2 separate regions of the Homo sapiens genome follow, and region 1 is linked to region 2. Evidence: fine-mapped expression QTL. Tissue or cell type: whole blood. Region 2 holds a variant in brackets; the other region holds the start of a gene. All regions are shown on one strand. Distances are from middle to middle.

What was found. PIP is the estimated chance that this variant, and not a neighbour inherited with it, causes the effect.
Region 1: GNL3L starts here. The variant in region 2 is fine-mapped to the expression of GNL3L in whole blood (TOPMed, PIP above 0.99).

Annotation. Positions count from the first base shown.
Region 1 is chrX:54,528,075-54,532,465 of GRCh38, reverse strand. It overlaps GNL3L (G protein nucleolar 3 like), which reads right to left and starts at 2,247. Exons shown (of 16, transcript NM_001184819.2): 1 at 2,047-2,247. RefSeq lists enhancers at 1,842-2,101, 2,112-2,171, 2,622-2,671, 2,326-2,846.
Region 2 is chrX:54,502,480-54,506,870 of GRCh38, reverse strand. No RefSeq gene overlaps it. Among named protein-coding and RNA genes, the nearest start is that of FGD1, 8.4 kb to the right of the region's middle. The variant C/T (reference allele first, on the strand shown) is at 2,069.

The DNA of each region.
Region 1 (4,391 bases), 26 kb before region 2:
AAGCCCCCTCCTAAGTCCCCTAAAGGTAAAATGTTAAAGAACATTATGAGGAAGGCGTAATAATTAGGAAAACTGGGAGAAGCTGGAGCTAAAGCCTCATATGGCTGAGTCCACACAGAGAAGGCAGTGTCATACTACCCAAAGGGAGGAATAGGTCTCAACCTCATCCGGGGTGGAGTCAGTGGCTCAAAGCCACTGGGCTTTGAGCCCAGTGGGGTCAAATGGGGTCAGATGGGGTCTTTGGTCCTTATTCCTCCACACTGTAGTGTTATATTCTAGGTAGGGGACTAGTGCTCAACACCTCCACACTGAGGGGAAAGGGACATGCAAGGATGGTCTATTTCTATATGGGGTGATAATAGTGCCTCTTTTCCCAAGTAGGGGATTCTATATCTCATCTACCCTGGGAGAGGTGGTGGGGAAGGGCGTAAATAGATCTCAGGAGTCTACCCTGGGGAAAAGGGGCCTGAGAACAGGGATTCTTACCTGAGTGTCTATATGGATTGAGATAAGTACAAAATCTTGGAGGAGGGGGTAAAAATCTGTGCCTGCATATGCCTGGGGTCTATACCTTGGTGATTTGGGTTGGGGGGATTGCCATCTGTCCCTCTACTCTGGGGTGCAGAGAAACTGGGGAAACCCACAAAGTGGCTGTGTGCATCTCTGCTGCATGGGGAAAGAATCACAGATCTGTTTATCTCTAGATTGTGGGGATGGGTCCTGCGTCTCTTCACCCTGGAGAGGGCTGTGGTACAGGATCGATATGCCTGATTCCACAACTATGCAGCTTTGAATAAGCGGGTCTGCACCTTACCTGCAGTGAGCTATTCTGGACCCTTCTATGGAAGGTGGACTGTGACAACTTTCATCTTTTATGCTGGTTGAAGTCAGCGGCACACTAACACTGAAAGAAATAGGGGCTCTGGTTCTCTGCATGGGTGGTGTGTGGAGGGGGCTGGCAATGCAGCTATAAATTAATAGATCAGCCCTAATACTTGGGGGTGGGGGCGTCTGTGATTCTACCCTGGGTGGAGAGAAACAGATCTGAGCTCCACTACCTTGGGTAAAGGGGAGAGACCATACGCACTGAACTGCCAGGTAATCAGCGATGTCACTCCCTCTCAACATTACAGGGAGGGAGACCTGCATATCTGCTCCTGTGGGGTATCTCCCTTGCTACATTTAGTGATTCTAAATCTTTGGGGGAGGTAGGGGGAGGTAGGGGGATGATCTGTGTCTACCTCAAAGGGAGAGGAACACATCTGAGCCCCTCTACCCCCACGGCCCCTCAAGGGGCAGACCTGACTGTCTCTTCATGGATTAAGGTCTGTTCCTGTTTGCTTCGAAGCATGTTGGGTGCTTCGAAAAATTACACATTCGGTAAAACGGGGGCTACGGAAGTAGGGATCAGGTCTGATTCTCCACAATGGGGACTCACTCTAACCTAAGAGGAGGGGGCAATTGGCTTAGTTGTCCATAAGCTGAGGCCTGTAACTGCAACCACTTTGGGGACGGGTGAGTTGGGGAGCGATACTGAGGGCTCTGAGTCTACGCGTATGGGGAGGAGGTGCCCTCCCTCTGTATATTAAATGTTTCTAAGCTCCTCTATGCTGGTATGGGGGCAGATACATCAAAGCCTCTGTCTGTCCTGAGGAGGTGCCTCGAGACGGCTGTCTAGAGCCAAGCCAAGGAAGTGCCTTAAGTCGGGAGAAGTCTGCGCTGCTCAGCTGGGTGGAGGGAGATGTCTCTACACGGTTGGGGTGGATGTCCCCCATGCCTTTGGTGGGTCGACTCCTGTCTATACAAGGTGAATGCAGAATGAAGCCTCACTATCTTGAGGACGATCAACGCTTCACCACACAAGTGAAGTTTGTGCCTCTCTACACAGTGTGTCCCGGGTCTACACCTTTCTAGGTGGGATGGGGCAATGCCCCTCTCCCGGCAAACTCCACTCCGCGAAAAGGCAATTCGGCGCGTCTCCACGTGTGCCGCGATCCCTGCCCCTCTTCCGGTCCCTTCTACCCTGGAAGGGATCCTGCTGTTTACCTCTCTATTCCAGGTTGGCGGGCATCTCTGGTTTCACATCCAATAGACGATCCTAACTGCCCGGCCGTCTAGGTGAGCGCACATTGTGAGAAAAGAGGAGAGAAGTTTCTTACTTACACTTCCGGCGGGGATCTGAGAAGCGAGGGCAACACGACAACTCGGTTGAGCGAGCAGAAACTCTCGCGCAGCTAGGCTCCGACTTCCGGATCCCAGGCCGGCGGCGCCCGACTCCGCCCACCGTGCGGTCTCCGCGGGGGGGGGGGGGGGGGGGCGGAGCTTCTGACTGACAGCTCACGCCCGCCCGTCCCTTCTTCGCGACCACGCTGGCCCCGCCTCCTGCCTGCCCCGTAGTTAAGGAAATAGCGGAGGAGGGAGAAGGAGGACGGGGAAATGACCGGGAAGAAGCGGCGGGTCGACTGGTGCGGCCATATACCTTACTTGCAAGCCAAAATTTTGTCTGCGGGCATCTGTCTGGGGTTAAATATGCGTGCTCCCAAATCTCAATAACCAGGCAGTCACCACGCCCGAATCAGACAAGGGTGGGGGATGGTGTCTTTGTCTGCCTGGAAGATGGCGACAGCAGGGTGTGAGAAAATGGCCGCCTGGGTCACGTGTCTGGCCGAGTATTTCCCCACCTGAAGTGAATTGGTTAGCTATTCCCAACCACCTTCCCGGGTCCTTGAGCCCCAGACCATCCCTGAGCACTCCTAGCTTTTTCTGCATACGTTCAGATCTATGGCCATACCCAACCCGAGCTGGAGCAGGAGCCAGAACGACTAGAAGCCTCTCCCACACTAGAAGCCTCTCCCACCCTTTTGCCTTCTTCCCCTCCTACTCCATCCTTCCCTCAATCCCGGAGCAGCGTCTGCAGAAGGGAATGAATTTATATCTCTGGAGTGGGGCAAGTAGGGGTTTCTGAAGCCATCTCAAGGAGCTGGCTGGGAAGTGAGGTCTCCCCCACAAAATAGTAAATATTAGTCTGCAAATGTTTTCTTCTTGATGGTTTAATTCCAGCCCCTCCTCTTCCTCAAGCCTAAACCCTGGGGTGGGGCACAGAGTAGGTGGAACTCTGTGCCTCCGAGGGTGGGTTTGTTTCTCCACTTCAAGCACAGACGGGCTGAAAATGACTCCATCTGTCCCTTTATCCCTTACATAAACAGGACTCACTACCTCTCTACATCGTTGGAGGGCTTCTAACCTCTCATCCTAGAGACACATGAAATTCCTCTGGACCTGAAACCAGCCCTGACCACTTTCACCTTTCCCCCTGCATTTGCAATTTTGCTCTGTTTCTCTAAGACCTAACTCTTGTCACTTCGATGAAACCTTCTCTGACTTTCGCAGATGAGTTAGAAACCCAGAGCACCTTACCTATACAGCTAAGCTAGCACTTATCACAATACTGTAGTTGTTTATGTGACTGTGTCTCCACAGGAGGGTGAACTCCCTGAGAGCAGGGGCCATGTATCTTCAAGCTTTCAACAACACCCAGCACAAGACTGGTATGAGGCAGGCTTCAACAACTGTTTGTTAAATGGGTGAGTTTACAGGCCTGCACCACAAAAAATGGGAAATGGGCTGTTTAGTAGATGGCATTGGGAAATTTGGCTCTCCATGAAAAGAAATATAAAACTGGATCTCTATTTATTCCACCTAAGAGGGTAGACTGTGAATGTGAAAGGTAAAACTATGAAGTTAATATATGCAGGAGAATATCTTTGTGACTTGTGACTGGGGAAGGACTTTTTAAACAAAATCCCAAATGCACAAGATATAAGGGAAAAAATACAATGAAATCTTGTGGAAACTAGTTATTACGACTTTGGAAAACAATTAGGAAGTATCCAGAATAGCTGAAGATGACCCTGGGACCCAGCAGTTCTAGTATTGGAGATGATTGATTAATAGGTAGATAGATAGATAGAGATCACCTCTAAACTTTAACTCCTAGAGAAATTCTTATACACTTGCTCAATGAGCATGTGGAAGAATGTTCATTGCAGAACTGTTTGTAATAGAGAAAAAAATGTGAACAGCCCAAAATTCCACCAACAGGAGAATGAATAAGTAAATTATGGTATAGCCATATGACAGAATACTATGCAGAATACTATAATGAAAAAGAATGAATCATGTTGCATGCATTGACCCAGCTAAATTTCAAAAACACAATACTGAGATAAAATACAAATTGCAGAGGACACATAAAGTATGAAACCATTTATATAAAGTTTTAAAATCTAGAAAACAGCAAACAATGTTGCTTATAGATTATATAGATATATAAACAATAATTTTTTTTTCAGACAAGATGTTGCTCTGTCGTCCAGGCTGCAGTGCAGTGG
Region 2 (4,391 bases):
CGCCACTGCACTCCAGCCTGGGTGACAGAGCGAGACTCCGTCTCAAAAAAAAAAAAAAAAAATCATGTATCCCCAAAATATGTACATATATTATGCCTCAATTAAAAATTGTTTTAAAATAAAATTAATTAGGCTGGGTGCGGTGACTCACTCCCGTAATCCCAGCACTTTGGGAGGCCGAGGCGGGCAGATCGCCTGAGGTCGGGAGTTCAAGACCAGCCTGGCCAACATGGTGAAACCCCATCTCTACTAAAAATAAAAAAAATTAGCCTGGCATGGTGGTGCGCGTCTGTAATCCCAGCTACCTGGGAGGCTGAGGCAGGAGAATCACTTGAACCCAGGAGGCGGAGGTTGCAGTGAACCAAGCTCGCACCACTGCACTTCAGCCTGGGCAACAGAATGAGGCTCCCTCTAAATAAATAAATAAATAAATAAATAAAATTAATTATAAACAAAACAATTGTGGGCAGAGAGAAAAACAAAGCAATAGTAATAGCCAGGTAGTTGGAGGGGGAATGACTAGGATTAGATAAACAAAGATGGAAACAGAGATGGTGATGACAATGGGGAGGGAAATGTCAGTGATGTCAAAGTCTACATGTTTGAGTGTTCTGTCTGAAACATCTTCTAAGAGGTGTACATGTATTAACTCATTTAATCCTCACAATAACACTATGAAGCACAGGTACTATTATCAGCCCTATTTTACAGATGAGGACACTGAGGCACAGCAAGTCAATGGCACATCTAGGACTGGAATCCAAATAAATAGTCAAATACCAGAGACCATACTCTTGACTACTTTGTCAGTGACACAGGTAGAGACAAAAGGACGTGGAGCTGGGGACAAGATAGCAGATGAAGCACACCTAGCGACAGAGAGATGGGGACAAGAGTCAGACACATGAGGAAAACAGCCCAACAAGAGAGATGGTGACAGAGAAATAGAGGTAAAAATTGGATATAGAGTAATGAGAGAGAATCAGACAGGGAGAAGGAGGCAAGAAGACCAACATAGGAGTGTGTGTGAGAGAGGGAAAGACAGAAACAAGAATGTAAATGTTAAGAGGGAAAAAATGAAGACAGAGATACAGAGATAGGAACAGAAAGGTGAGAATAGAGAAAGACAGTGGTAGCGGGGAGCAGAGACAGATGAATGCAGCAATGCAGAGATGAGGACTGAGAGAGACAGCCAGAAATAGGATAAATTGGGACAGAGTGATGGAGACTTCTGGAAATACATAAAAGAGGCCAAGGAGCCAAGGGAAATTGAAAGGAAAACAGAAAAGACAGAAATTCTGGAACACATAGAAATTTAGAAACAGGCAGGGTGCGGTGCCTCACGCCCAGCACTTTTGGAGGCTGAGGCAGGCAGATCACTTGAGGTCAGGAGTTCGACACCAGCCTGGCCAACATGGTGAAACCTCGTCTCTACTAAAAATACAAAAATTAGCTGGGCGTGGTGGTGCATGCCTGTGATCCCAGCTACTCAGGAGACTGAGGCAGGAAAATCACTTGAACCTGGGAGGCGGAGGTTGCAGTGAGCTGAGATCACACCACGACACTCCAGCTTGGGTGACAGAGTGAGACTCCGTCTCAGAAAAAAAAAAAAAAAAAAACAGATGAGAGAGAACAATGTGGTCATATATATAAGGACAGAGACATGGACCAAGATGAGGATCATGAGTTAGACTCAGACAGGATGGAGACAGGGTAGCCAGCAACATAACTAATAGAATGAGAGAACAAGAGTGAGAGGGGAGAGAGTTTGAGAAAGAGAATAGGAGAGACAGGAAAAAGAAGCAGCCAGACAGTTGTAAACAGAGAGACAAGAAAAAGCAAAATAGAGACAGAGATAGGGGATGTCTGAGAGGTGGTGACAGTGATGGCTAATTGGGAGGAAGAGAGACAAAAACATGAAAGAGAAATAGTGGCCGGGCACCGTGGCTCATGCCTGTAATCCCAGCACTTTGGGAGGCTGAGGTGGGTGGATCACCGAGGTCAGGAGTTCGAGACCAGCTTGGCCAACATGGTGAAACCCCGTCTCTACTAAAAATACAAAAATTAG[C/T]CAGGTGTGGTGGCGGGCACCTGTAATCCCAGCTACTCGGGAGGCTGAGGCAGGAGAACTGCTTGAACCCAGGAGGCGGAGGTTGCAGTGAGCTGAGACTGTGCCATTGCATTCCAGCCTGGGTGACAGAGTGAGACTGTGTCTCAAAAAAAAAAAAAAAAAAAGGGAGAGAGAGAAATAGAGACAAAAGGATTAAATCTTTCTGATCCAACAATCATTCACAAGTCTCTTGGCTATATCAGGGTGAGCACTGGGCCATATGGGGCCCACTAGACTATGAGTTCAGGAAGGCAAGGCCCAGGCCTTTGTTATTCCTTACTGTATCCTACACTCATGATAGAGTGCCAGTCACATGGAGAGCTCCATTTATTAAACATTAGGCACCATGTCCTGTGCATGCCTTTTCGTGGATTATGTCATCAGAACCTCACAGGTCTGATGTAGTAGGTGTTATTATCATCCACAGTTTACACATGGGGAAACTGAGACTCCAAACAATGAATAACTTGCCCAACATCACACAGAGGAGCTAGGAGTGAATGAAGCTCCTGCCCGGACCAATGGTGAGAGTATATCATAAACCAAGGATTGGGATGAATCCTTTCCCATGCACTGAAGATACAAAAAGCCAAATTCCAGTCTGCTTGCTTCCAAGGACTACATGTTTGACTACAATGCCATACTGCTTCAATTGAAGGTTTGCTGACAGACTAATGGAAGACTGCGGTCTCTAGGGTAAGTGGGTCCTGACTCCTTGTACTCTGGAGCTCCCTCCTTCTAGTAGTTGAGGCAGACCTACCTAGCTTAGAGAGACTGGGAAAGCTCAGAGAGACTGGGGAAATGGCAGAAATAAAGCCCTGTGGGAAAAACTCAGCCTGGGAAAATCAGAGAAAGCTTCCTGGAGGAGGAGGTAATTTAAAGAGGCCAGAGGTAGATTTACATAGAAATCAATGAAGCTTAAGCTTCAGGGCTCCTCCTTTGCACAGGTCTCTTCCAAGGCCCTGTTTAATGAACAGTGAACAATCATAGTACTGAAGATTTGTCATTCTACAAAAAAATTAAAATGTCCTGAAATTTTACAGCTCATATATGAAAGAAACTAGACAAGGGTTTTCCCAAATTTGATAGCAGTCCTAAACATGTATAAAATATTATTATTATATGAAACTGAAACTTTGCTAAACTGTCAATAGTAAAAAACAAATTTCTATCAACCATGCTACTAAAAAAGACTAATTTTTTTTTTTTTTTGAGACTGGGTCTTGCTCTGTCACCCAGGCTGCAGTGCAGTGGCACAATCATGGCTCACTGCAGCCTCAACCTCCTGGACTCAAGGGATCCTCTTGCCTCAGCCTCCCAAGTAGCTGGAATTACAGGCAGGCACCACCATGCCTGGCTAATTTTTTAATTTTTTGTAGAGACAGGTCTCACTATGTTGCCTAGGTTGGTCTCCAACTCCTGGGCTCAGCCATTCTCCCACCTCAGCCTCCCAAAGTGCTGGGATTACAGGCCTTAGCCATCGCGCCTGGCCCTCTATTTTCTCTATCGCAAATGACCTTACTTCATGCATCAGTGAGAAAATAGAAGCCATCAAACATCAAGAATTTTTTACAGGGCCTTTATCTTCCCACCACTCAATCTGTAAAGTTACCTGTATTTGCATTTGTCTTTTTCTCATTCCTTCCTGTTACAATTAAGGGTCCAGGGACCCTCTGAGGCTCAGTACCCTAGATCCCAACCCCAACCTTTCCTTTCCCTTGTGTTAGTGCCTTTCTCTCTCTCTCTCTCTCTCTCTCTCTCTACTGGATCATTCCCAGAAGGAAACATAGTCCAGCATCTCTCATCTTAAAAAAAAAACATTATTTGACCCTCTTCCTATGATCATGCTATCTCCCTAGGATCTATTTCCCTTCACAGCCATGTTTCTCAAGGGAACTGCATACGCACATAACCCCACTTCACTGGGGTGGGAGGAAGTGTTCCTTCTAACCTCAGTGAGGATCCTATAACAATCCGGCCCTCTAGGCAATTAGTCTTATTTTTTTAATTAATTAATTTATTTGTTTTTCATGATATACATTATAAATTTTATAATATACATATCTGTACAGTTTGAATAAACAATTTAAAAAATCTGTGTCCCTATCACCTAGCTTCAATAAGAGATCATTTACTAATGACAAAACTCCTTGTACGACTCTCCCCAGTCATGTCTCCTTCACCTCTGTGACAGGTAACTGCCATCCTGAATTTTTGATTTTTCATTCCTTGCTTTTCTTGTTTTATAATATATGACTGCATCCACATACTGTTTAATTCTGCA